Linked DNA regions of Homo sapiens: all the other regions are linked to region 2. Evidence: fine-mapped QTL for protein levels in blood plasma. A gene starts in region 2. Each other region holds a variant in brackets. All regions are shown on one strand. Distances are from middle to middle.

What was found. PIP is the posterior inclusion probability: the model's chance that the variant is causal. Protein levels are from antibody-based Olink assays in UK Biobank. Linkage for the fine-mapping came from a reference panel and not from the study's own genotypes, which makes the PIPs less certain.
Region 1: its variant is fine-mapped to the plasma level of the GMPR protein (UK Biobank, PIP above 0.99).
Region 3: its variant is fine-mapped to the plasma level of the GMPR protein (UK Biobank, PIP above 0.99). The variant lies in the coding sequence of GMPR. If it changes the protein, the assay may bind it differently, which can mimic a change of level.

What each region holds. Positions count from the first base shown.
Region 1 is chr6:16,162,843-16,171,114 of GRCh38, reverse strand. It overlaps a transcript of MYLIP not described here. Among named protein-coding and RNA genes, the nearest start is that of MIR4639, 25 kb to the right of the region's middle. The variant G/A (reference allele first, on the strand shown) is at 3,829.
Region 2 is chr6:16,234,435-16,242,681 of GRCh38, reverse strand. GMPR (guanosine monophosphate reductase) reads right to left here and starts at 4,095. Exons shown (of 9, transcript NM_006877.4): 1 at 3,902-4,095. The coding sequence starts at 3,988. RefSeq lists silencers at 3,993-4,092, 4,213-4,312.
Region 3 is chr6:16,281,625-16,289,624 of GRCh38, reverse strand. It overlaps GMPR (guanosine monophosphate reductase), which reads right to left. Exons shown (of 9, transcript NM_006877.4): 7 at 3,790-3,832. Among named protein-coding and RNA genes, the nearest start is that of GMPR, 47 kb to the right of the region's middle. RefSeq lists an enhancer at 3,453-3,582. The variant G/T (reference allele first, on the strand shown) is at 3,795.

The DNA.
Region 1 (8,272 bases), 72 kb after region 2:
CTCTTTCATCTTAGTGTCTGAACATCAGATGTTTCTTCCTTTGAATCTCTTCAAAGCCAAATGGCTTTGGGCAGCACAAAATACTCTGGGCACGTGTTGCTCTGTCTCCCTGCACATTTATTTGCCTTCTAGCACCTTTTGCTGTTTACTCTGCTAAAGAATAGAAACATATTTAAAAACTGGGAATGTACTTGGCAATAGCATCTGAAAGGTGTATATGAAACTCAAGTCTAATTATAGTTGTTATACAGGGAGATTTAAAAAATTAAACATCAGTAGTTGATTATTTTAGTCACACACATGTATGGTACATAAATTCTCTTTCCCTATCAAATAGGAGATCTAGATTTCTTTTTCTGAGATAATTTGTAGCCTTTTCCATTTATAATTCTAGTTGCTACAAGAATCAGCATCATCTTTAACAAGAGGGATTCATTATTAGAAAATTTAATAACATAATCCTTCATATTAAGACAAAGAGAAAAAGGTCATATAATCATCTTCACAGAGGTAGATAACGCACCTGATAAACTTAACACTTAAAAATATACATTGATGACTATTTTGTTTTTTAAATACGTATGATTATATATAATTACATATATCATTATATATGGTTATATATGGTACAACATTTACTGAAATATATAAATAATGTATACTTTATATTCATATGTGATTTTTAATATGTTATACATGTGATTATATGTCTGTGTGTGTGTATACTTTAGCTCAAAAGCTGGCATCTTATTTAACGTGATTACACTGGAGACTTTCCATTAAAGTGAGGAACAAGACAAAGGATAGCCATGATCTCCACTGCTATTTAATACTGGGCTGGAGGTCCTAGTCTATGCAATTAGATAAGAACAAGCAATTAGAAGAATAAAAATTGGAAAGAAAGAGGTATAACTGTCTCTGTCAAATCAATGTCAATATGTAGATGAGGGGTGTCCAATCTTTTGGTTTCCCTGGGTCACACTGGAAGAAGAAGAATTATCTTGGGCCATACATAAAATACACTAACACTAACAATAGCTGATGAGCTAAGAGGAAAAAAATTGCAAAAAAACTCATACTGTTTTAAAAAAGTTTACAAATTTGTGTTGGGCTGCATTCAAAGCTGTCCAGGGCCCTGTGTGGCCTGCAGGCTGCAGGTTGGCTTTAAGCTTGGTGTAGACCTTATCTGAATCCTGATTCAAACACAAAAATTGAAAAAAAATTATTTTTACAATGAAAAAATTTGAACATTGACTGGATTTTGGCTAATAGCAGACACTAGTGAATTATCGCTACATTTAAGTATGATAATGGCATTGCAGTTATTTTTTTTAACGTTCTTCTCTTTAAGAGATACATGACGAAATGTGTATAGATAAATAACATATGGGAGAATGTAGAATCTATATTATCTATAACTACCCCACAGATAAAACAAGATTGTCCATGAGTGGACAATTGTTGAAGCTGGGTGATGGGTCCATGGAGCTCATTATACTATTCTTCCTACTCTTGTATGTGTCTGAAATTTTCCACAATAAAAATTTAGAACAAGGTTAAAACAAATAAGGCAAAATAGTATCATGCATGTAATCTCAATGGTGGGTATATAGTCATTGTATTATTTTCTATTCTTTTTTATCTTTGAATTGCTCATAATTAAAATCAAAACAATTTACAAATATACAAATTATTTTGATTTTAATTATGAGCAATTCAAAGATAAAAAAGAATAGAAAGAATAGCTGTGCAGATACTTAAATTGAGGGAGGATTTTTTTTTAACTCTATAAAATCTTATTTCTTAAAAAAAAAAAAAAGAAAGAAAAAAAAAGGCCTAAAGTAAGTAAGTGTATTAGTTCGGCTTCACACTACTATAAGTGCCCCAGACTGGATAATTTATAAAGAAAAGAGGTTTAATTGACTCACAGCTGCAAATGGCTGGGGAGACATCAGGAAACTTATACAATAATGGCAGAAGGGAAAGCAAAACCATCCTTCTTCACAAGGTGGCAGGAGAGAGAAGCACAGAGCAAAGGGGGAACAGACCCTTATAAAACCATCAGATATTGTTGAGAACTCACTATCACAAGAGAACAGCATGGGAGAACCGCCCCCATGATCCAATCACCTCCCAAGAGTTCCCTCTTCCAGCACCTGGGGATTACAGTTCGGATTACAACTCAAGATGAGATTTGGGTGGGAACACACAGCCAGACCATATCAATAAGCAAAATGTTCAAGTCTGTTTACTCCTGGTAGTGGGCACATAGAGTCTGTTTATTATTCTGTCTTTTGTTTGCTTAAATTGTTCCTTAATTTAAATAGCATCCTTTATTTTTTAAAAATGCCTGTGTGTAATGCTGAGGTCATATCTGCCTTCTATGGAAGCTGCTTGCAGCGGGGCACAGAGGTCACCAAGAAATTTTGCACCTGGAGATTTTGTATCAGCAAGAAGTGGGTAGAAAAGTAGAGGGTCGCTGGAAGGAAGGTAACACTCCCAAATCCCAGTCCACTACACACTTTCCCACACTCTGAGGGGCTCTCCAGAAAAACTAAAAAATCAGGAGGAAGATACCTCCAGGGTTAGATCTTTCTTCTACTTCCTCAGTGGTGCCTAAGGCATCACCCTCCACCCATGGCCCCATTGTGGTCAGCACCTCCCGACCTTGATCTAGAAACTGCACGCTCAGAGTTACCCTCTCTCTGGGGTCAGGCAATTCCAGCACTGCACTTTCAGCGTTGGCTGAAAGTCTTGAACAGTTTACTTAGACCTTCTCCATTTGTTTGGCTAACCCCAGAGAACACCTCAAAGTAAGATCTGGTAAACTGTGCAGTGTTTAAACATTTTTTCTTCAAGTGGTAAGACCAAGTACACATCCCATTTCGACAAGAAGAATTTGAGATAAGCCTCTGTGATTGCTGAGGGCTATCGAGGAGAGTAATTTACCCTGAGGGCTGCCAAAACAAGTCCAGTCACTAGGGAAAGATTCTGCATGGAGACTAGAGTGTGGACCCCATAGCCATGAAAACTATGGCCTTTTTTTCTGAATTTGAGGCAGTTTTAGAAAAGCAAAAACCAAAAACTTCAGCAGATACTTTTCTCCCAAGTGGCTTTGTTCCCTCGCCTCTGGAGAGCCATAAACCATGAAATTTATTTGGGAAGGGGGTGCAGCATTAACAAAGACATAGTGTCAGTTGCTTTCTATTAATTACTCTTCAATATTAGTATACTTTTGAAATATGCTTCAGAAAATGATGACTAAATGGCTGAATTTCTAAAAGGAAAAAAATTGTTTTAGGATCAGATCAAGCACATTTATTAAGCATTCACTCATTCATTCATTCATCTACTAACTATTTATAAAGCACCTACTATGTTCCTGATATTGTTGCCAGGTTCTCAAGTTACCCAGAAGACACAGTGGCCACTTACAAGGAGAGGCATTGGGTAAGGATGTGCTAAGTTTTGTCTCCATCAAATTAAATTGAAAATCAGTTATTATCTAAACATTTACATAATTACAGGCAGTCATTATCCAGGTTGTTTTCCAAAGGCCAAATTTGACTCAGTGTGTCTTTGATTACTGAGACAAGGCACCAGTCGCATGAAACATCTCTTCAGAACAAAGCATTCCAAAGAAATTATTACACAGGAGGTTTAGCTCAAGAAAAAAGGAACAGAGAAATAGCTTGGGGTACAAAGCTCTTTATCTTGCTTTCTAAAGTGCAGTGGTTTAACGTTTAAAAGGTTACTTTCTGGAACATTTTTCCCTTGAAAGTTTCTTTCACACATTTGCAGACAGAAATTACAATAGAGCCATGAACA[G/A]CTTCCACTCTCTGGAGGGGATTTTCTTGCTTTTACTTATGTATTAGATAAAAATAGCATTTTACTTGTCTTCAAGCCTAAAGACAGGATTACATTTAAATCAGGTTCTTTCATTTTAAAATGTGAATTGTTAACTAGGGAGTAATGAGACCCGACCCTTAACCAGGCAGCCCTGGATTTATCCTTATGTCCATAAAGTTCCCAAGTTAAAATGAGCTTCAAAGGTCTGTAAATGTGAGGAATGTTACCTCCTTCCCCCTGGCACTTGTGAACATTTTAGTGGTTGTTTTCTCTGGTCAGATCCTACTGCCTCCAGAGATTTTTTTTTTTAACTTATTTCTCTGCTGTGTTTCCTGAACTTTTTCTAATAAGCAAGATCAGAACTCCTTTAGATACCTCCTTGATTTCGTTTATTGACAATCTAAACCCTACTGAGATATGTCCCTCAGTTATTCTGGACCTCATCAACAAGTCTGAATCATGGTCTCCAATTCACAGAAATGCTAAGATTGCAGCAACTTCTCTATAATAAATTTATAAAATGAGGTAATCTGATAGACAAACTCATTTAAGAAGAGTATTGACCACTTAGATTTCTGATATTTAAAAAAACACGTTAACTGCTGGAAAAGTCAAATAAAAAAAGCTAGAGGATTTCTTATATGTGTTCCATAAAATCACAGTGTTAATATTTCAGAGCTACAGAGAGCCTTGTTGATTATCTAATTTCCTTATTTTGTTATAATGGAAAGTGAGGCTGTCATATTGTGAAATATATACAGTACTTGGTTATCCTCCAGTTTCCTGGCATACAACTCCTAAAATCCTTGGACTCTTCAAAGTAATAAGTGGCTTTGTATGTGCTATTGAATTGACTAATAGGGGCGGTTCCTAGGTAGCTTCAGGATGGGGTTGGTCACCAGAAAGACCAAGGCAAGATTAGAGGGTTGGGACTTTTAGCCCCACCCCGAAACCTTGAGAAGGGGAGAAGGGCTGAAGATTATGTTGGTCACCAATGACCAATGACTTAATCAATCATGCCTCCCTAATGAAGCTTAAAAATCAAAAAGGACTATGTTCTGGAATCTTCCAGGTAGCTGAACCTCCAGACAGTGGAGGTTCCTGGAAGGTGGTGTGCCCAGGGAGGGCACGAAAGCTCTGTGTCCCTTCCTGCATGCCTTGCCCTACACATCTCTTCATCTGTATCCTTTGTAACATCCCTTATAATAAACAGGAAAACTTAAGTGTTTCCCTGAGGTCTGTGAGCTGCCCTAACAAATTAAGGGAACCCGGCGGGGTTGTGGGAACCCTAGTGTATAGCCAGTTGGTCAGAAGCACAGATAATACAACCTGGGGCTTGCGATCTGCATGGGAAGGTGTGTGTGTTGGGGGTAGGGCAGTCTTATGGGTCTGAGCCCTCAATCTCTGGGATCTGACACTCTCTCCAGGTAGATAGCATCAGAATCGAATTGAATTGGAGGACACCCAGCTGGTGTCCACTGAGGAATTGTTTGCTTGCTTGGTGGATGGGAAAAACACCTCCTCAATTGGGTCACAGGAGTCTTCTGTGTTGATTGTTTAAGTGAGAGAATAGAGGGAACGCTTTGGGTGTGTTTTTCCCCCTCATTTGGCAGGGGGGAGTTAAGGTTCCATATAGAATTAAGGTTGCTAATCAATGGACCCTAAAAAAAGGAGAGGATCCTGGGGCGGTGGAGGGCAGTTTTGTGGGACTGAGCCCTCAACCTGTGGGATCTGATGCTGTCTCCAGGTAGATAGCATCAGAATTGAATTGAATAAGAGGACACCCAGCTAGTGTCCTCTGCTGGATTGATTGATTGGCTGCTGGTTGGGAGAAATCTCCACAAACTTCTTCGTGCCCAGAGGTCACAGAAGTCTTCTGTGTTGATTGTTGTTGAGTAAGAGCATAGGAAAAGCACTTTGTTTTTTATTCTTTCATTCACAGAAGTCCACACAGGGGCCCAGAGAAGCAAAAGACAGGACTTTCCTAATATCGCATCAATTGACTTCAGTCTTTCTATTCCTTGCTGCAAGATACTTCTACTAGAGAACAGAAAAAGTCAATATCTAAAGAATGTCCAAAAATAAAAAGTCTTCTTTTAAAATGAGGTCTCGGTACCTCTTCAGGGAATCTGTCCCTTCACAGTTCACAGTTCACAGTCAGGCCTTATTGATCTAAAAAGAACTAAGTTCTTCCTGAGTTTATGGATTTATTATATTCCCATGTTGCCTGCACTAGAATGTAAACTCCAAGAGGGCAGGGCTTTGTCTGTTCTGTTCACTGGTGCACCCTGAGTACCCACCACAGTGCTTGGCCCCCAGATGATGGTCAGAATGAATAAATGAATGAATGAATGAAATGAAATCTGGCTGTCACCATAGGCAAACACTCAGGACTAACAATAGAAGGAACAAAAATAAGATCTGAAAAGGCCGTATGTTTATTACGATAAAAAATAATGTATTAAATGGGCATTTTGAGAAACTTCATTTTGTTTCTTTATGTCCTGGTAATGAGGCCTAAGAAGATCCCAGATATTACCATCTCCCTGGCGTCCCGAAACCTTTACTTATTAGGGTCAAACATCTGCCATTTAACTCATTCATTAATCCATACCTACTAGATATTTTATAATGATATTTTCAATATTAGAATCAAAGGTGCTTAGCCGGGTGTGGTGGGCATGCCTCTAGTCCCAGCTATTTGGTCAGCTGAGGTGGGAGGATCACTTGAGTTCATGAGCGAGGCTGCAGTGAGCTATGATTATGCCACTGTACTCCAGCCTGGGTGACCCCGTCTCTAAAAAAAGAAAAAGAAGAAAAAGGATGAAATGTGCCAGAGGTGTCAGTCAGTAGAAAGTGAAGCAATGGACTAGTATGAGATAATCCACATCATAAATAGTAAATTTTGACTGTCGTGTGTAGGCTGGGTCTAGCCACTGGGATCTTGAGATGCTACTAGTATTGATGTTCTTTTCCATGTGCTCCAAAACAGTGAAAATTCATACATGTTGCCTGTTCTCCCTCCAGTAGTGACTGTAAGACTTTAATTTGATTTAATTCAAAACAATTTAAGTTATTGAGCATGTACTCAACAAATTATTCTGCTAGGCATTTTAGGAAGAGATATATGACAAGGGCTGAGTTCTGATCAATGTCGGCTGTTTGATGCATTGCCTGTCTGGCACATTGCCTGCAAGATGCCTGTAGCAGGAAATTTTTTATCTTACAGTCATGGGGCTGGAAGGATAGGGGAGGAGCTTTTTCTGTTGGATTAAAAAGGAGATACTCAAAGTTGAGTTAATAGAGGACAAAGATGTCAAACCTGAAAAAGAGTTTAATGGGAATGAAGAGACTTCCAATGACCTGAATGGTAAGCAGTTTCAATCCAGAGAAAAATATATTTGAAAAAAACAACAAAGTTATGAATACAGTGGTTTTTAACAAGGTACAAGGGACTTCATGATAGTTTTGTTAACAATGCTTCTTAAACATAACTTTCAATGGACAATGTTGATTTTATGTAAGATCAAGACAAGAGGAAAAGGAAGATTATAGAATTTCCAGATGAAGATAAATGTCAAAGGAAGATGAGGCTTCAGACAGATAAAGACAACAAACAAGTCATGGGAAGGCCCCAGTGAGAGCTGACTCAGTGAGGGAGACTACACACATGAGGAAGTGATAATTGAGTGTTTCGCATCCAGCAGGAAAGAACCTAGAAAAAGAGGAGAGAAAAGGAAATGTATTATAAAATCTCAACAAGTTGTCTAACCCAAGAACCCAAGACAAATTTTGACAGCTTTGTTGGCTTCAGTTTCTAGCATTATTTTTATTGGTTGAATTAGGTACAAGTAGCTCTATGGGTAGCAAAAGCCCACAGGTGATAGAGACAATTTCTGCAAAACAAACACATTGTATCTTGTGGATGGTATAACAGACACCTGCCATGTGTCTGTTGTTGGATACAACCCTACAGGAGGCATGATTCATTTCCAGCAGCACGAGACCAGTGTATTAATCACAATGCTTTTGGCTGCAGGTAATAGGAAAATCAAATAAAGCAGCTTCAACAATAAGGAAAAAGTGTATTACCTCCCATGGCAGTAGGACAGGAGATGGTAAGGGCTGGGTGGGGTGGCCTGAGGCTCTGGGATCAGTGAGTTCAGCTGCTTAATGTTGTCAGGATGACCTAGATCTTTCCACCTATCAGGTCTGCCATCCTCATCATATGCGCTAGCACCCCTCATCTTCACAAGCTTGCATTAGCAGCTCCATGCATTACATCCTCACACAATGCCAAAAGCCGGAAAAGCAGAGGGCGTGTCATCTTTCTGAATCCCTGCCCTCTAGCTCTTTTTAAAAATTAGAATACCTGGTTACTGGGGAAAAATCATAATGAAAACTGCAATTGCTTATTTCACAA
Region 2 (8,247 bases):
GGGCAACAAGAGCGAAACTCCTTCTCAAAAAAAATAAATAAAAAATAAAATAAAAAGGAGAAATTTGGACACAGATGCACACATAGGGAGAACCTCATGTGGAGATGAAGGCAGAGATTGGGGACAACTGTCAGCAAACCAGCAGAAGCTGGGAGAAGGGCAAGAAACAGAATCTCCCTCCCAGCCCTCAGAAGGAATCAACCCTGCCAACATCTTGGACTGGGACTGCTACCTTCCAGAACTGTAAGATAATAAATTCTTGTTACTTAAGCCACCAAGTATGTGGTCCTCAGTTACAGCAGCCCCAGGAAACCAGCATACAGGCAAAGGTTAAAAAAAAAAAAAAAAAGTAATTAGTGACAGAGCTTGGACTAAAACACAGGTATCCTTCCTCCCAGCCACTCTGCCATGTTCTCATCCCCCTCAGGCCAACCAGTAGCAGACGGTGAAAGCTAGACCAGAACTCTTCTCACGGGACTGCTGGGGAAAAAACTGCTATGAAGTTTTAAGCAGACTGAACATCTGTTGTGTCTTCTCTGTCCTTAAACAAAATGAGTAATTTGCTGCGATTCTCTTCAATGCCTGATAATTTATTAATAAGTTTTTTAGGGGTTTATTTTTTGTTTTTGTTTTAATTCTTATCAGCTGGGTGCAGTGGCTCACACCTGTAATCCCGGCACTTTGGGAGTCTGAGGCAGGCAGATCACCTGAAGTCAAGAGTTCAAGACCAGCCTGGCCAACACGGTGAAACCCCATCTCTACTAAAAATACAAAAATTAGCAGAGCGTGGTAGGTGCCTGTAATCCCAGCTTCTCGGGAGCCTGAGGAAGGAGAATCGCTTGAACCCAGGAGGCGGAGGTTGCAGCGAGCCAAGATCACACCACTGCACTCCAGCCTGGGTGACAGAGTGAGACTCCGTCTCTAAATAAATAAATAAATAAGTACATTCTTACTAGCTTAAGGACTAGAGTAGAATGTTAGAGCCAGAAATGGGTACTAAGGAAGAAAACACTCAGGGAGAATGCAGGCTCCCCAGCGTAACAGATGAAAACAAAGGTCTTGTCTCAATCCACAAACTCATCACTTCTCAGAAAAAGATTATCCAAATGTCCCCACATGACCCTGTGGCGCTTTATTCTTCCATGCCAGGGGCTGGACATTTGAGAGATGAATGCCTCCCTGGAGAATCCAGGCGAAGGCCACCTGGGCCACTGCTACCTGTATTCTTTGCCTCTCAGAGGTGACCTCAGATTCATCTCATTCATGTTCATTTATGGAAGGCTGGTGGAAATGTCCTTGCAGGAGTCCTGAAGCTTCTGAGGGGGAGATCACTCTTACTGTCCGTTTCCTGCTATAGCCTGATGATCCATTGCTGGGCCTGGCTCTTAGCAAAACTGTCACGAGGATAAGCCCATCATCAGCTGTCAAAACCCTCCTCCCTCAGCCAGACTCTACTCCCAGGGTGTACGTTCTCTTTCCTGGCTCTGTACAAATCTGCTGTTAGGCTCAATGTCGGTCATCTACCCTTCAGTTTCCAATTTGCCTCCAGATATTACTTCTGCCAGGATGCACATATTTTAAGCTTCTGATTGTGCAAGGAAAAGTTTTTATCTGCCTGTGAAAAATTTCAGGCATCAACAAGCAAACTGAGAAAACATTGAGAGGGGATTAGGGAGGCCTAACTAGATCCCTCAACGCCACCGAGGCAAGTAAAGTCAGATCATGGGGGTGGCCAGCCAGGCAGCAGCCTCACGCATCAGGGAGCTAAACCATCACGGCAACCGATTAGAAAGGCAATGCTGGTTAACCTGAGTCTCCAGGCCCGTGGCTGGCAAACTCCCACGAACATAAAAATACAAAAGAGACTCCTCAAGGGCACTGAGTTCTCACTGCAATGTGTACATGAAGATTGCAAAGATGCTATCCCAAACTGGAACATTAGTTACAATCTGCCCAAATTATGAAGCCAAGTGTTGCATGACATTGTCGCATGATGTGATAGTATTCCCCGAGAAGGAGTAATTCATTCTATTACATAAATTTCATTTTAGCTTTAGAGACAGGGTTGTCCAGGCTGAAGTGCAGTGGCACCATCATAGCTCACTGTAACCTCCAGCTCCTGGGCTCAAGCCATCCTCCCGCCTCAGCCTTCCAAGTAGCTGGGACTACAGGTGAGCACCACTGCCCTAATTTTTTAAATTTTTGTTGTAATCTCCAGCTCGTGGGCTCAAGCCATCCTCCCGCCTCAGCCTTCCAAATAGCTGGGACTAGAGGTGTGCACAACTGCCCTGGCTGATTTTTTAAATTTTTGTAGAGCTGAGGTCTTGCTTTGTTGCCTAGGCTGGCCTCGAACTCCTGGCCTCAAGCAATCCTTCCACCTCAGGTTCCTAAAGTGCTGGGATTACAGGTGTGAGCTACTGTGCCTGGCCCTATTACATTAATGTTCAATATTTTACCTTCTCAACATGTTTTCTGGTTCAGAAAATAGGTATATCTTTGTTTTGAACATCCAATTTTCTGAAAAATGAGTTTCTCTCTTCTAAATACATTTTGAATATTTAAAGAATATTGAGGCCACCAAATTATTAGCACATCCAGAATCCCCCTATTTCATCTTGGTCTTGCCTTAGGAATTGGCTACAGCTCATGCTTCCAGAGGCCCAGGCCTGCCCTCCAAACTGTTTTTGTTCCAAGAGAGGCCCCCTCTTTAGCACCTGAAAGGTCATGAGGGACAGGCACAGGGTCACCCAATCTGGGGCGATAAGTTTTAATCATTCCTCCCCTACGTCCTCCAGTCCTGCCGGGCTCCAAACCAGCCAATGCTGCTGCTTACAGAAGGCCACTTGGTTTAGTCATTGGCTAACGCGGAGGCTTCCCCAATCCAAGCAAGCCCTCGGCTGGCAGCCCCAGGCACTGCAGTTAGGCCTGGCACCGGAGTGGGCAGCGGACTTCTTTGCTGAGGGGATTTATTTATGGTCTTGTTTGTGGAGCTGAGTGGACGGAGCTGTGCAGGTTGGCCCAGCCTCCTCGTGTTTACTCCTTCAGCCCCAGCCTTCAACCGTGTCCGGTTTCCTCACCTTCCTCTCCAGCTCTCAGCAAAGCCAGTCACCAGCGCACACCACCCCGGGGCACTCTGCCTTTCAGGCAACTAGTTTATCCTTCAGGGACTGGCCTCCCTTCCCCCAGCCTCAGGCTATTTCCAGTCCGGTCTCCACCTGTTCCTTAGGATTTGAGGACATCCAGGCAGAACCAGGGAAATGCCCGAGGCTTCCAATTCGCCCCCACCTCTCTCACCCCAAAGCTTTCGAAACTCTTCTCCAGGGCTAGGCTGGGACCGCGGGCTGTCCAGTACCGCTGAGTCCCCAAGCCCCACTGCCAGCAAGGCCGCCAAACTCAGAAAGGAAACCCTGAACTTGTGCCCTGGGTTCTGGTTTTTCAGACGCGTTCACGAAGTTCCACCGCTGGACCCGAAGCGAAAGCAGCAGCAATTATCAGCACTAGGAGACGCAGCCAAAAATCACCGGGATCTGCAGTTGTTTTTCTCGTCCTCTCTCCCCTAGCTCCAGTTTCCTTTTCTTGCTATAAGCGCCCTCGTACCCCTATTCCTTCTAAACCAACTGGCCACTGGATCTCGCTCATCTGTGGTCGAGTTTCACTGTGAACTTCCCCTAGGCCACCCAACGGGACCGACGTGTAGAGAATTTCATGGGCCCCCGTATCACCGCCCTTAAAGACACCTCACGTCCTGGCAGGTGCTGGGGCGCGGGAACGGGGGCGCAGCGCCCCAGTCTCAAACACCAAAGCAGGCAGGGTAACCCGGTGCCACCCCCTTCCACCCACTTGCCCCGCGCCACCCGGAAAAAAAAATCCCACCCCACTGCGACTTCCGAACGTCCCCCACCTCGGCTCGGCTCTTGAGGCTGCTCCGCTTAGGTCGGAGCAGGACATCCTTGAAGTCGAGCTTGAGGTCCGCATCTATGCGGGGCATGGTGCAGCGGCTCCTGGCTGCGGCGGCGGCGACGGCGGGGCGGGGGCGCCTGCGCGGGGCGGCGCGGGGAGCGCCGGGGCTGCTGTGCCGCGGCCGGGAGCTGGCGTGGGCCGGGTGCGCACGCCGCGGTCTTAAACACGCCCCGCCGACCCGCGGTCACGCTTGGCCCGCCCCGGGCACCGCCTCCGCCTCAGGCAGGGGTTGAGAGGCAGACTGGTTAGGGACAGATTGGCGGCGAAGCCCTTCCTCCTCGCGCCGCCGCCCCCGTCCTTCCCCCTCAGGTGTACAGCCCGTGGCAGTGACCGAATGGGGACGGGGGAGGGAAATGCGCACCGTTCTGTTTGTCCCCAGGGTCCCCGATGGAGAGGGGACTTAGCGTGTGGCTGCCTTATCCAAGGGAAAAGTCGCTCCCTGAGAGCTTTTACTTTTTTTTTTTTTTTTTTGAGACAGTCTCACTGTCGCTCAGGCTGGAGTGAGTGGCGCTATCGCCGCTCATCGCAGCCTCGACTTCCTGGGCTCAAACGATTCTCATGCCTCAGCCTCCTCGAGTACAGGCGCACGCCGCCACACCCAGCTTATTTTAAAAATTATTTCCTAGAGGCGGGGTTTCACCATATTGCCCAAGCTGGTCTCGAGCCCCTGACCTCAAGTGATCCGCCTGCCTCGGCCTCCCAAAGTGCTGGGATTACAGGCGTGAGCCACCGTGCCCGGCGGATTCTCCTTTTTTAAAATTCAAGCCCGGTGTGCTCACCCAGTGTTGAGGAGCACGTCTCTCACTTGCCAAAGAACCAGAAACCCCAGGGAGGTTGTATAGAATTAAGGAAAAGAACGTGGGCAGTTAACTGTTTAGCTGTACTGGGATTGTGGAGGCCATGATTCCCTTTGGACTTGTTGTTAAGAGACAAGGTCTCACTGTGTTGCCCAGGCTGGTCTTGAACTACTGGGTTCAAGCAATCCTCCCGCCTCAGCTTCCCAGTGTTGGGACTACTGGCGTGAGCCACTGCGCCCAGCCTGGATTTCAGGATTTTTGTTTAAGAAAAACAGTGAGGTCTGTAGTCGACGCAGATCCTGAGATTTGAGGAGCCTGAGTCCCCTCTGAGGGTTACCAGTGATGTGAGTTCGAGGGGTTACCAGTGATGTGAGTTCATTGATTCACTTATTGACCTTACCGACCTTTTATTATACATTTGAAATGTGCTGCCGGGCTTCATGCATCATCTCATTCACTCTCAGAACAACCCAATGAAGAAAGAGCCATTTCACAGATAAGGAAAAACGAGGCTTCTATAAATGAAATAACTTGCCTAAGGCCGCAGAAAAATTCAATATAAATTTCTCAGTCCTTAAAACTTGCTACAACTATTCACTGAAGCTGCTTTTGTCCTGGAACATCTCTGCCTGAGTTTGAAACCTGGTTCCACCACTGTCTAGCTAGGTGACCTTAGGGGAGTCAATTTCTCTAAGTCTCAGTTTTCTCATAAAAGGGGTGGGGGCAGGAGGGGGGGTTAACCCTATCTCCTCCCTGGTTTTTGTGAGAATTAAAGTGTGTGTGTTTATGTAAGCACAATGTCTGTCCCATAGTAGTTGCTCAATGCATGGTAGTTACAGATTTGTAGTCACATGTTACATTATGTGCATTGTGTTTGTATTTTCAAACTAGAATGCTAACTGCACAAAGGCAAGAATCATCTTTCATTCTCTTCCATTTTTCTGCAGCCTCGAACTGAGCTAGCAACTGTTCTCCTTGAGCTAGCATGTGATAAGGCTGACCATAAAAGATACATCACAATATTCAATTTAACACAAATGTCTGAAGATGATAAAGGTCTCAGCCCATCCCACATGGTTTCATTAGCTATACCCCAAAGGAAGTTCATGAAGTTTCAGGGAAGGAAATGAAACTTATCAGAGAGAATGAAAGTAGCCACAATTAGTCCAGCCCATGCAATGTTTATAACCCTTGACGAATTCTTGGGAGCTGGCCAGATGTGCTGCTTATTTGTGAAGTACGGAAAGGAAACCTAATTCTGATCTTTTAAAGATTAAATAGAGGTAAAATATAATTACTAGATGGTATGATTATTTTTAAATTATTATCCTTAAAGGGAAGAGAAACTGACCTTGTTAAGCATCTGCCAGCGTGGATGAGGGCTTTATTCATTGTTTCATACATGGTCTTAAAGGAGAAGCTTCTGTAGGTTGTCCTTGCTCTTTCCCTCTGGTTCTCTTTCTTTCTGGCTAGCCCTCCTTTTATTAGAATAGACAGAGAAGTTCATTTTACACATTCCATTCCCTCTCCCTCTGGAACATTCCTCTATAACTGCCCTCTTCTCTGACACAAAATCATACTCCTGTTAGAGTCAGCCTGAGTCCCTGATTCTTCTAAAACCGGCTTTGCAAAAATTATGACAGTGAGAAAAATCTGACATAGGAAAATGACAACAGTGAAAGAAATCTGACCTAACTGACTCCATCTTGCTTTTAACCGCCAAGGTGTCCTTGTTCATTCCTGGGTGTAGGTTGAACTAACTATGGGAGGAATTGAGTTTATAGTTTAACTTTGAAACAAAGATGAGAACAGCACGTTCCCAAAACAAACCCCCTCCTGGCTTGGGGACCAGCGCACCTTTGTAAAACTAACAAAGTAGCTACAGATTACAAATCATGGCTCAGGCATCATGTAGCCAGAGGCCATAAGATTCCCAACCTCCCCAGTTGCTCCTATGAATAACATCACTATTGAAAACCTAAGATTGGTGTTAGAGATATGTTTCAGTCAGTCCCCCCATTCTGATGGACCAGCTGGCACCACCCTGACCAGTAAACTGGCTCAGCTAGTTCTGTGATCCCACTCGGAAACGGAAGACAGCAAGGAAAACCCACTTCAACAGCCTATTATTTCATCCCTTACCTGACCAATCAGCATTCCCCACTCCCTAGTTCCTGCCCACCAAATTATCCTTAAAAAAGCCTGGTCTCTGAATTTTTGGGGAGACTGATTTGAGCAATAAAACTCCAGTCTCCTGTTAGCTGGCTCTGCATTTATTAAACTCTTTCTGTATTGCAGTAATGCTGTCTCAGTAAATTGGCTCTATCTATGCAGCAGGCAAGAAGAACACATAGGGCAGTTCCACTCCCACACCAACTGAGACTCCTTTCAACATCCTCTGCTTCTCATTACTCTAATACAACAATAATAGTTTCCCATCAGTACAATGACTTTATGTTAAAGTTTTCACTGTCTAGACAAAGCCATAAGTGATATCCAGAGTTCAATTTATTAACATTTTATTATGGGAGGGGAGGGTTATCCCCAAAATTACATGGGAAGATAACCTCCAAAATTATGTGGGATAAATTCCACTTGGTCACAGTGCATAATCCTTTTTTGTATTGATGGATCCTATTTGCTAATATTTTGTTAAGGATTTGTGCATCTGAGCTTATAAGGGACATTACTCTGTAGTTTTCTTTTCTTTTGATGCCTTTATCAGGGTAATAGTGGCCTCATAGAATTAGTTGGGAAATGTTCCACGCTCTGTTTTCTGAAAGAGCTTGTGTAGGCTTGGGATTAGTTCTTTAAATATTTAATAGAATTAACCAGTGAACTAAAATTATGTGAAGTGATAAAATGGTTTATTTTTAGTAAATAAGTATCTCTCAAAACCCAGAAATAAAGTTAAGTATTAAAGGCTTTTTGATAATTCAGAATTATAGTATTTAATATTAAGGGATAAGAGCAAATCTGGAGGCATCACACTACCTGATTTCAAACTATACTATAAGGCCATAGTCACCAAAACAGCATGGTGCTGGTACTGGTATAAAAATGGGCACATAGACCAGCGGAAAACAATAAAGAACCCAGAAATAAACCTACATACCTACAGCCAATTGATCTTCAACAAAGCAAACTAAAACATGAAGTGGAAAAAGGACACCCTTTTCAACAAATGGTGCTGGGATAATTGGCTAGTCACATGTAGGAGAATGAAACTGGATCCTCATCTCTCACCTTATACAAAAATCAACTCAACATGGATTAAGGGGCCGGGTGAGGTGGCTCATGCCTGTAATCCCAACACTTAGGGAGGCTGAGGCAGGCAGATCATCTGAGGTCAGGAGTTTGAGACTAGCCTGGCCAACATGGTGCAACCCTGTCCCCACTAAAAATACAAAAATTAGCTGGGCATGGTGACACCGGTCTGTAGTCCCAGGTACTCGGGAAGCTGAGGTGGGAGAATTGCTTGAACCCGGGA
Region 3 (8,000 bases), 47 kb before region 2:
GCACCATGCTGCTGCACATTAGATTTCCAGAGTACATATTCTGCCAGACTAATCACCGAATGACAGCACATTTCCAGGACAGGCACAGGAGACAGAGGTACTGAAGCTGCCTGTCTTTGTGGGCTATGCTGGAACAGGCCCAGGGCTGGTTCTATGTTGATCCAAAGTGCACAGCACATGATAGACGCTGAATGATTAGCTGTCAAAAAAGTAAAAACGTGGGAAAAAAAGTTATCATTCCCCATTTTGTTCATGGATCACTGTGCAGTGGGATTCTTCATTGCCTATTAACTAAGGAACTGCTACTGTGTTCGGAACTGGTGGGTTCTTGGTCTCACTGACTTCAAGAATGAAGCCATAGACTCTCACTGTGAGTGTAACAGCTCTATAAGGTGGCGCGGCTGAGGCTTTTTCCTTCTGGTGGGGTTGGGGTCTGCGCTAGCTCAAAAATGAAGCTATAGACCTTCCCGGCAAATAGCACAGCTCATAAAAGCAGTGTGGGCCTAAAGACCGAGCAGCAACAGAATCTATTGCAAAGAGCGAAACAACAAATCACCCTCCCAAAGAAAAGGAGCCAGAAGGGTTTGCCACTGCTGGCTCCGGCAGCCTGCTTTTATTCTCTTATCTGGCCCCACCCATATCCTGCTGATTGGTAGAGTGAGTGGTCTGTTTTGTCAGGGCGCTGATTGGTGTGTTTACAATCCCTGAGCTAGACACAAAGGTTCTCCACGTCCCCACCAGATTAGCTAGATACAGAGTGTGGATTGGTGCATTCACAAAACCTGAGCTAGACACAGGATGCTGGTTGGTGTGTTTACAAACCTTGAGCTAGATACAGAGTGCCCATTGGTGTATTTACAATCCCTGAGTTAGACATAAAGGTTCTCCACGTCCCCACCAGACTGAGGAGCCCAGCTGGCTTCATCCAGTGGATCCGCACTGGGGCTGCAGATGGAGCTGCCCACCAGTCCCACGCCCTGCGCCTGCACTCCTCAGCCCTTGCATGGTTGACGGGACTGGGGGCCTTGGAGCAGGGGGCGGCGCTCATTAGGGAGGCTCCCGCCGCACAGGAGCCCGTGGAGGGGGCGGGGAAGCTCAGCCATGGCGGGCGGCAGGTCCCGAGCCCTGCCCCGCAGGGAGGCAGCTAAGGCCCAGCCAGAAATCCAGCGCAGCGCCAGTGGGCTGGCACTGCTGGAGGACCCAGCACACCCTCCGCAGCTGCTGGCCCGGGTGCTAAGCCTCTCATTGCCTGAGGCCGGCAGGGCCAGCCGGCCGCTCCGAGTGCAGGGCCTGCCAAGCCCACACCCACCCGGAACTCCAGCTGGCCCGCAAGCGCCTCGCGCATCCTCGGTTGCCACTCGCGCCTCTCCCTCCACACCTCCCTTCAAGCTGAGGGAGCCGGCTCCGGCCTTGGCCAGCTCAGAAAGGGGCTCCCAGAGTGCAGAGACGGGCTGAAGGGCTCCTCAAGTGCTGCCAAAGTGGGAGCCCAGGCAGAGGAGGCGTGGACAGCAAGCGAGGGCTGTGAGGGCTGTCACCTCTCACTACAGCCTCCCCTGAGTAAGCCCTACTGAGGGTTTACCTTTAGAACAGAACAAGACAGTAGCAGGGCGCAGATGTATTAAGTAATAGGATGAAGGAGGAGGGGAGCCTGGCAAATCCTAATCAGGAGGAGGAAACATAGGAACCCCTGAAAGTGGCCCTGATGCCTTCAATTTGGTCATTTAAACATTGGCAGAGCACTCTGAGGTTTTCATTGGCGTTACAGTTCAGCATGACAGAAAGGCGAGCTTTTCTAGCACTCAGGGAAGCAAAGCACAACGCAACCTTCCTAAGTGGCAGCAACCTCTTAAGACCCTCCCCTTTCAGGGTTCCTAACACGAATGCTGACTCCCTGGTCCTCCTGCCATGATTTTAAGGAGGCAGAGGATAACTGGTGTCCAGCCAGGATTCTTGACAATTCAGGAGCACAGCACCTCTGCGGCAGCTGCAAAGGAGCAGATGTCAACAGCAGGAACGCAGAGCACAGACCCACTAAAGAATGCTTTGAGGGGGTTCCCAACCATTTTCATTTCGGGACACCCTTGCATCCTTCCCTGACAAGGTCCCTCTCGCTCCACTGAGTCTCGGCACAGGTACGGCCGCACTGACTGAGAGACAGTGGAGGAGGGAATGGCACCCAAAGGAGACTGAGCTGAGTGTGGTCCAAAGGCCAGGAACTGTGATCTACAAGGCACTTCTCAACGACCAGTCACTTTAAAGTGTGTTTGGCTCTCCCTCTGTACAGAGAGCATGTGTGAGGCAACACAAAAGAGTCCAAGATGGACCACCACCTGTATTAAGTAGATTCAGCTCAAAAACCAATCATAAAAATGCCCTTGGCCAATGATCCTTACAATAAAGGGTAAGTGACAGCACTAGTTAGCAGAGGCTCTGTATTCTCCCTGTTCTGCCCCTGATTGTAGGGCTGTGACCTTGTCATTCCCTCCTACAGCCTCAGTCCCCTCAACTATAAAATAGGAAGCTGGAATCAGTGGAGGGTCTGTAGATTCCTCTCCACAGATAGGATCTATGATTAGGAGGAGGTTAAATACCATTTTTCATGACATCTTTGGGTTGCTATGAAACCTTGTTGCTAAGAACACTGCCCTGTGTTTTCCTTTGTCACTATCAGGGTTGTTGTCTGACCATTTATTTTTTAATTTTTATTTTTTATATTTTTTTGAGACAGGGTCACTCTGTCACCCAGGCTGGAGTGCAGTGGCGTGATCTTGGCTCACTGCAACTTCTGGCTCCCGGGTTCAAGCGATTCTCCCACCTTGGCCTCCTGAGTAGCTGGGATTACAGGCGTGCACCACCACACCCCGGTATTTTTTTTTGTATTTTTAGTAGAGATGGGGTATTGTCCAGGCTGGTCTCAAACTGCTGGTTTCAAGTGATCTGCCCACCTCGGCCTCCCAAAGTGCTGGGATTACAGGTGTGAGCCACCGCACCCAGCCTGAAAATTAAAAACAAAAACCAAAAAACAAAAAAACAGAATTCCTATGACATAAAGTTTCCTGCCACCATTTTTTTTTTTTCTGGCATCAGCAAAGGGCGGAGGCATGGGAGCTTCGTTTCTGCCTCCCGCCGGCACCCACAACGCCCATTTCACATTCTGGAGCCCACAGCCACGCGGCCAGCTCTGACTTCCAAATGCCATTTGCAGTTCTATGGCCAACACATGGCTCGGCAGCCGTACTTTACTGCTTGTGGTGTTGAGAGGCTGGAGCGTCTAGTGCTTTCCAGAGAAAAGCTCAGGACCTGCTGCCCTCCCACCACCGCTCCCCATCCCCAATCCCACGGGCTCACAGCAGGCACTGCTGCCCCCTAGCGGGAGGCAGGCTCCAGCCTCCAGGGAGAAACCGCTGCGGGATTCCTCCTGTCCCTTCCACGGGACTTCTCCAAGCTGGGTCCAAAAAACCCCCTCTGTAGTTGTTACACATCACACCTGGCACCATCCCCTTGGACAGGTCCCTTGAGCTTTCTCTTCCCTGGGATGAAAAGGCCGTGACTTCACCCACTCCTGGCTTGCAGGACGTCACCCCTAGATATCTCCTGGGGCATCTGTGACCTGCTCTGCCACGGTCCAGGATTTGGGCCAATTGGGGCTGAAACCCAGGGAGAGGAACCTCCAGGAGACCCAGAACTTCCCCACCAGGTCCCCCTCCTCATTCAGGTTGCCAGCTGGAGAGGTGTAGGGAGCTCCCTCCTTCCTTCCTTCCCTCCCTCTGCACCAGGGCCCGGCCTTACCAAAG[G/T]CTTTGGCGACATCCCCTGGACACGTACAGCCTCCATCCTTCACAGAGGAAAAAGCAAGGACAGGACATCATCAGCGGGAGCTCAGCCAGGCTGTCCCCTCCCCCCAGATGACCTAGTGACTGGGGGTTCAGACCCACCACAGCCCCCAGCAAGCCCACGGGCCCAAGTTCCCCTACCACGGCTGTTGTTGTCTGATCGAGTGTACTCCCCTCAATATTGCACCTTTCACTCCCCAGGCCCATCCAGGCTTCCTCTGTGGGTCAGAAGCTGGCACCACCCACTGCCCACCTGCCTGCCTGGGCTCAGACACTTCTGTTGCAGAGCAGGAGGCAGCAGGGGCTGTGAGCGGCAGAGGGGCTCAGCCCTCATCCCATGCCAGCCCCCTACATAACACACCCAGCCATTCCACTGTCCACACTCATTCTCACTCAGGAGTCACCTTTCCCTCTCTGCCTGGTGTGAGGTGAGATTTATTTAGTACAAGGGTTGAATTCTTGTAAGAGCCAAGAAAAGGACATTGAGTTAATCCTTTTATCTTTCCAGGTACCTCCATGTTTCCTATTCCTCATGTATGGTACAAAGTTACCTTAAAATCAAACATCTGTTTTTCCACCCACACTGCCCATGCAGACCACACTTGGGCTGGTTTAATGTGTAGCAGGGCCAGTCTGTTATCTTGGGCTGCCCAGCAAGGTTCAGCTGTTGGGGGTAATGTTTAAACTCCAGCTACACAGTACAAGTCTTCTAGGATGCAGAGCTAGCTGAATTTTCTTTTCTTTTCTGTTTTTTTTTTTTTGTTTTTTTTTTTTTTTGAGACAGTCTCACTCTTGTCGCCCAGGCTGGAGTGTAATGGCGTGATCTCGGCTCACTGCAACCTCTGCCTCCTGGGTTCAAGCAATTCTCCTGCCTCAGCCTCCTGAGTAGCTGGATTACAAGTGCCCACCACCAAGCCCAGCTAATTTTTGTACTTTTAGTAGAGACGGGATTTCGCCACGTTGGCCTGGCTGGTCTTGAGCTCCTGACCTCAGGTGATCCGCCCACCTCGGCCTCCCAAAGTGCTGGGATTACAGGCGTGCACCACCGCGCCCAGCCACTAGCTGCATTTTCTTACAAACACAAGACACCAAATGCCCAGGCTGCTACCTGCTATTCCTAATGTAGCCTGGGCGCAATTCAAGGGGCAAAAGGACAGCAACAGTACGCTGGAGCAGCAGCCAGACACACGGGGACAGTCACGAAAGCCATGGTGCAAGGGGAGACAGCAACAGTGTCAGGGCTCACGTGACAGTGACACAGCCCAAAGCTAAGTGTGGGTCTAGGAGAAACAGCAGGACCTCAGAGGGAAGCACCTGTCCGCAGAAGGTGGGACCCACTTTGGGAAGGAATAGAGAAAAGACAGGGTGCCCAGGCTACCCCGTGTTACAACCTGCAGGAAAGTGCACACACCTCTGGAGTTGGAGAGCAGGGAAATGGGATGACCCACCTTGTGAAGAACATCTCAAACTGAGAACATAGGGTCTCTGTGACTCAGTTCCCTTTCTCTATCTACCAGTGAGGCCTGTCACTCCAGGAGCTAGAACTCCAATACTATTTCACTACTTCTTTGCAGCTCTGATCAAAAGGTTAAGTGTGAAGGCTGGACCTTTTCTTTACAAACATTTACTGACCACAGTTATTTCCTCAATCAAATGTGTTATTCATACATGGCTTCTCTGACCCCCAGAGGGCCACAGAGCACTGAGGAATATTATTTCAGAGGTGGTCTTGCCGTATGTTATCTGGCCCAAACCCACTGTGTGAAGACAGGGACAGGGCTTGTGGCTCTATACCCCTTGTTAATGCTTCAAAATCCTGGCATATTTATTTATTTTACCTTTCAAAGGTACAACCTCAAAATGCCCTTCGCTTGCCCTGCCAATTAATTTTAAAGTGCTTTATCTCTTTATCAAAACCAGCTCTACACAGTGTTTCACACTTCTGGCCTCAAACACATTAAATAAACTCATGCTCCCATTAAAATAAGTCCTACACATGTATGACTTTTAAAAAAATCACTCTTTTGTTCACTCATTTGTGTCTCCTGTGGTGTCCTGAAAATTTCTTATTACTGTGGTCTGTGATGAGGCCTGAATCAGGAGCCCTGTGCCACTGGGACCCCAAGAAAATCAGCCTTTCTCTTCCCAGGATGGGCCAAGAGATCCACAGTTAATACAACTGTATGGCGTATTGCAAAGAGGAAATCATATTTATGGCGTCATCCGCTCACAGGGTGCTTTTGTATGTGCACTTGTGAAATGGTCAGCGTAGACCAAACAACTGTATATGGTTAATGGTTGTACATTTAACCAAGAGCAATCCAACTTCACATGATGCCTTAGGACAGACATGGCAGTCTACTTCCTGCTACTGTTTATATTTCCAAAAGTGTTCAAAGTGTCCTTTCATGTTCTCGGGAAGCAGTGTAGCTCCAGCAATCAAGACATACATGCATCTTCACACATAAACATTCATAGCTGCTGAAAGGTTGTTAAAAACAACAACATTTGGGCTTGTAATTTGTTTGTTCTGTGCAAGTATTCAAAGCAGTAATGTACAAGGAGTCCTTTTTTTGTTTTTCCAAAAGAGTTAACATTATATTTAAGTACAAATGGCATCACAGGACATGAAGGATAACTTGTGAACTGTCAGCCTGCCTCTTTTGCTTAAAAATACTTGCTCAGGCTACAGGCACAGTGGCTCACACCTGTAATCCCAGCACTTTGGGAGGCTGAGGCAGGCAGATCACCTAGGGTCAGGAGTTCAAGACCAGCCTGGCGAACATGGTGAAACCCTGTCTCTACTAAAACTACAGAAATTAGTTGGGTGTGGTGGCGTATGCCTATAATCCCAGCTACTCGGGAGGCTGAGGCAGGACTATCACTTAAACCTGGGAGACAGAGGTTGCAGTGAGCCGAGATCATGCCACTGCACTCCAGCATGGGTGACAAAGCAAGACTCTGTCTCAAAAAAAAAAAAGAAAAAAAAAATACTTGCTCACATTATGTTGAATACTGACAATGAAAAAACAAAAAGGAAAAAAGAAAAATACTTGCTTATTCCTAAAACAAAGGAAGGATGGTATGGCAAACATGGAGTAGGCAGAGAAAGGAGTTCAAATCAGTCACCTACTAAGAACCAGCAACTCTTTTGAACTTAAAAGTCATTTTTCCATTCAAACTCATGAACCTGAAGGAGATATTGCGTAGACGGCGGGGACGGTGGAAAGAGGCTCAGAAAGGTTAAGCAACTCTCCTAAGGTCACACAGCTATAAAAATGGAAAAACAAGTTTAGAACCAGTGGTTATCTTAAGATGATAGCATTACTGCTAATACTTATTTTCCTTTTTATGTTTATTTGCATTTCTAACTTTTCCTAGGTTAAACACATTTTGCTGGGAAAATTTTCCAGACTCAAAAAAAAAGATTAATTATTTGAATGAATTTGTTTAGGTATTTCTAAATAATGGTGTGATAACAAAAAATTAACTGGTCCCACCTTAATCTTCACCTATGCAGGAAGTATCCTGAATTTTTCCTCCCTCTGCCTCTCTGAAGCCCATGTGGGCCACAACAGAAACACGACTGAAGCCCAGCCTCTTGGGTATCAGTACATGCTCAACAGACACCATGTTGTGGCTTCCTTTGAACTTCAATGGCACCAGTGTGCTAATTCAGCAAATAAAGGGTAAAATGGGACAGCTGGAAGGAAATTGGACCAAGTGGCAGGATCCAAAACACCTGGTGGGTTTCTAGCAGGTTCAGGGCTACTGGCAAGTGACAGAAACGTGCCCGTGCCCTGTTAGACAAAGGGAGTGTGGGGGCAATGGCTGCTCTGAACCTCAAGACACTCAGCTGCTTACAAGGACTGAGCTGAGGGCAAAGGTCCAAATTCTACTAAGTCCATTCATTTGCTTTTCCAGCTAAATGGAACTCCTAACCCCATCTAGGAGACCTCTCAGCATTGACGTAAAAGGAAACTCGGAGGCCGGGCACGGTGGCTTACGCCTGTAATCCCAGCACTTTGGGAGGCTGAGGCGGGCGGATCATGAGGTCAGGAGTTCGAGACCAGCCTGGCCAGCATGGTGAAACCCTGCCTCTACTAAAAATACAAAAAAAAAATGGGCTGAGCGTGGTGGCGCGTGCCTGTAATCCCAGCTACTCGGGAG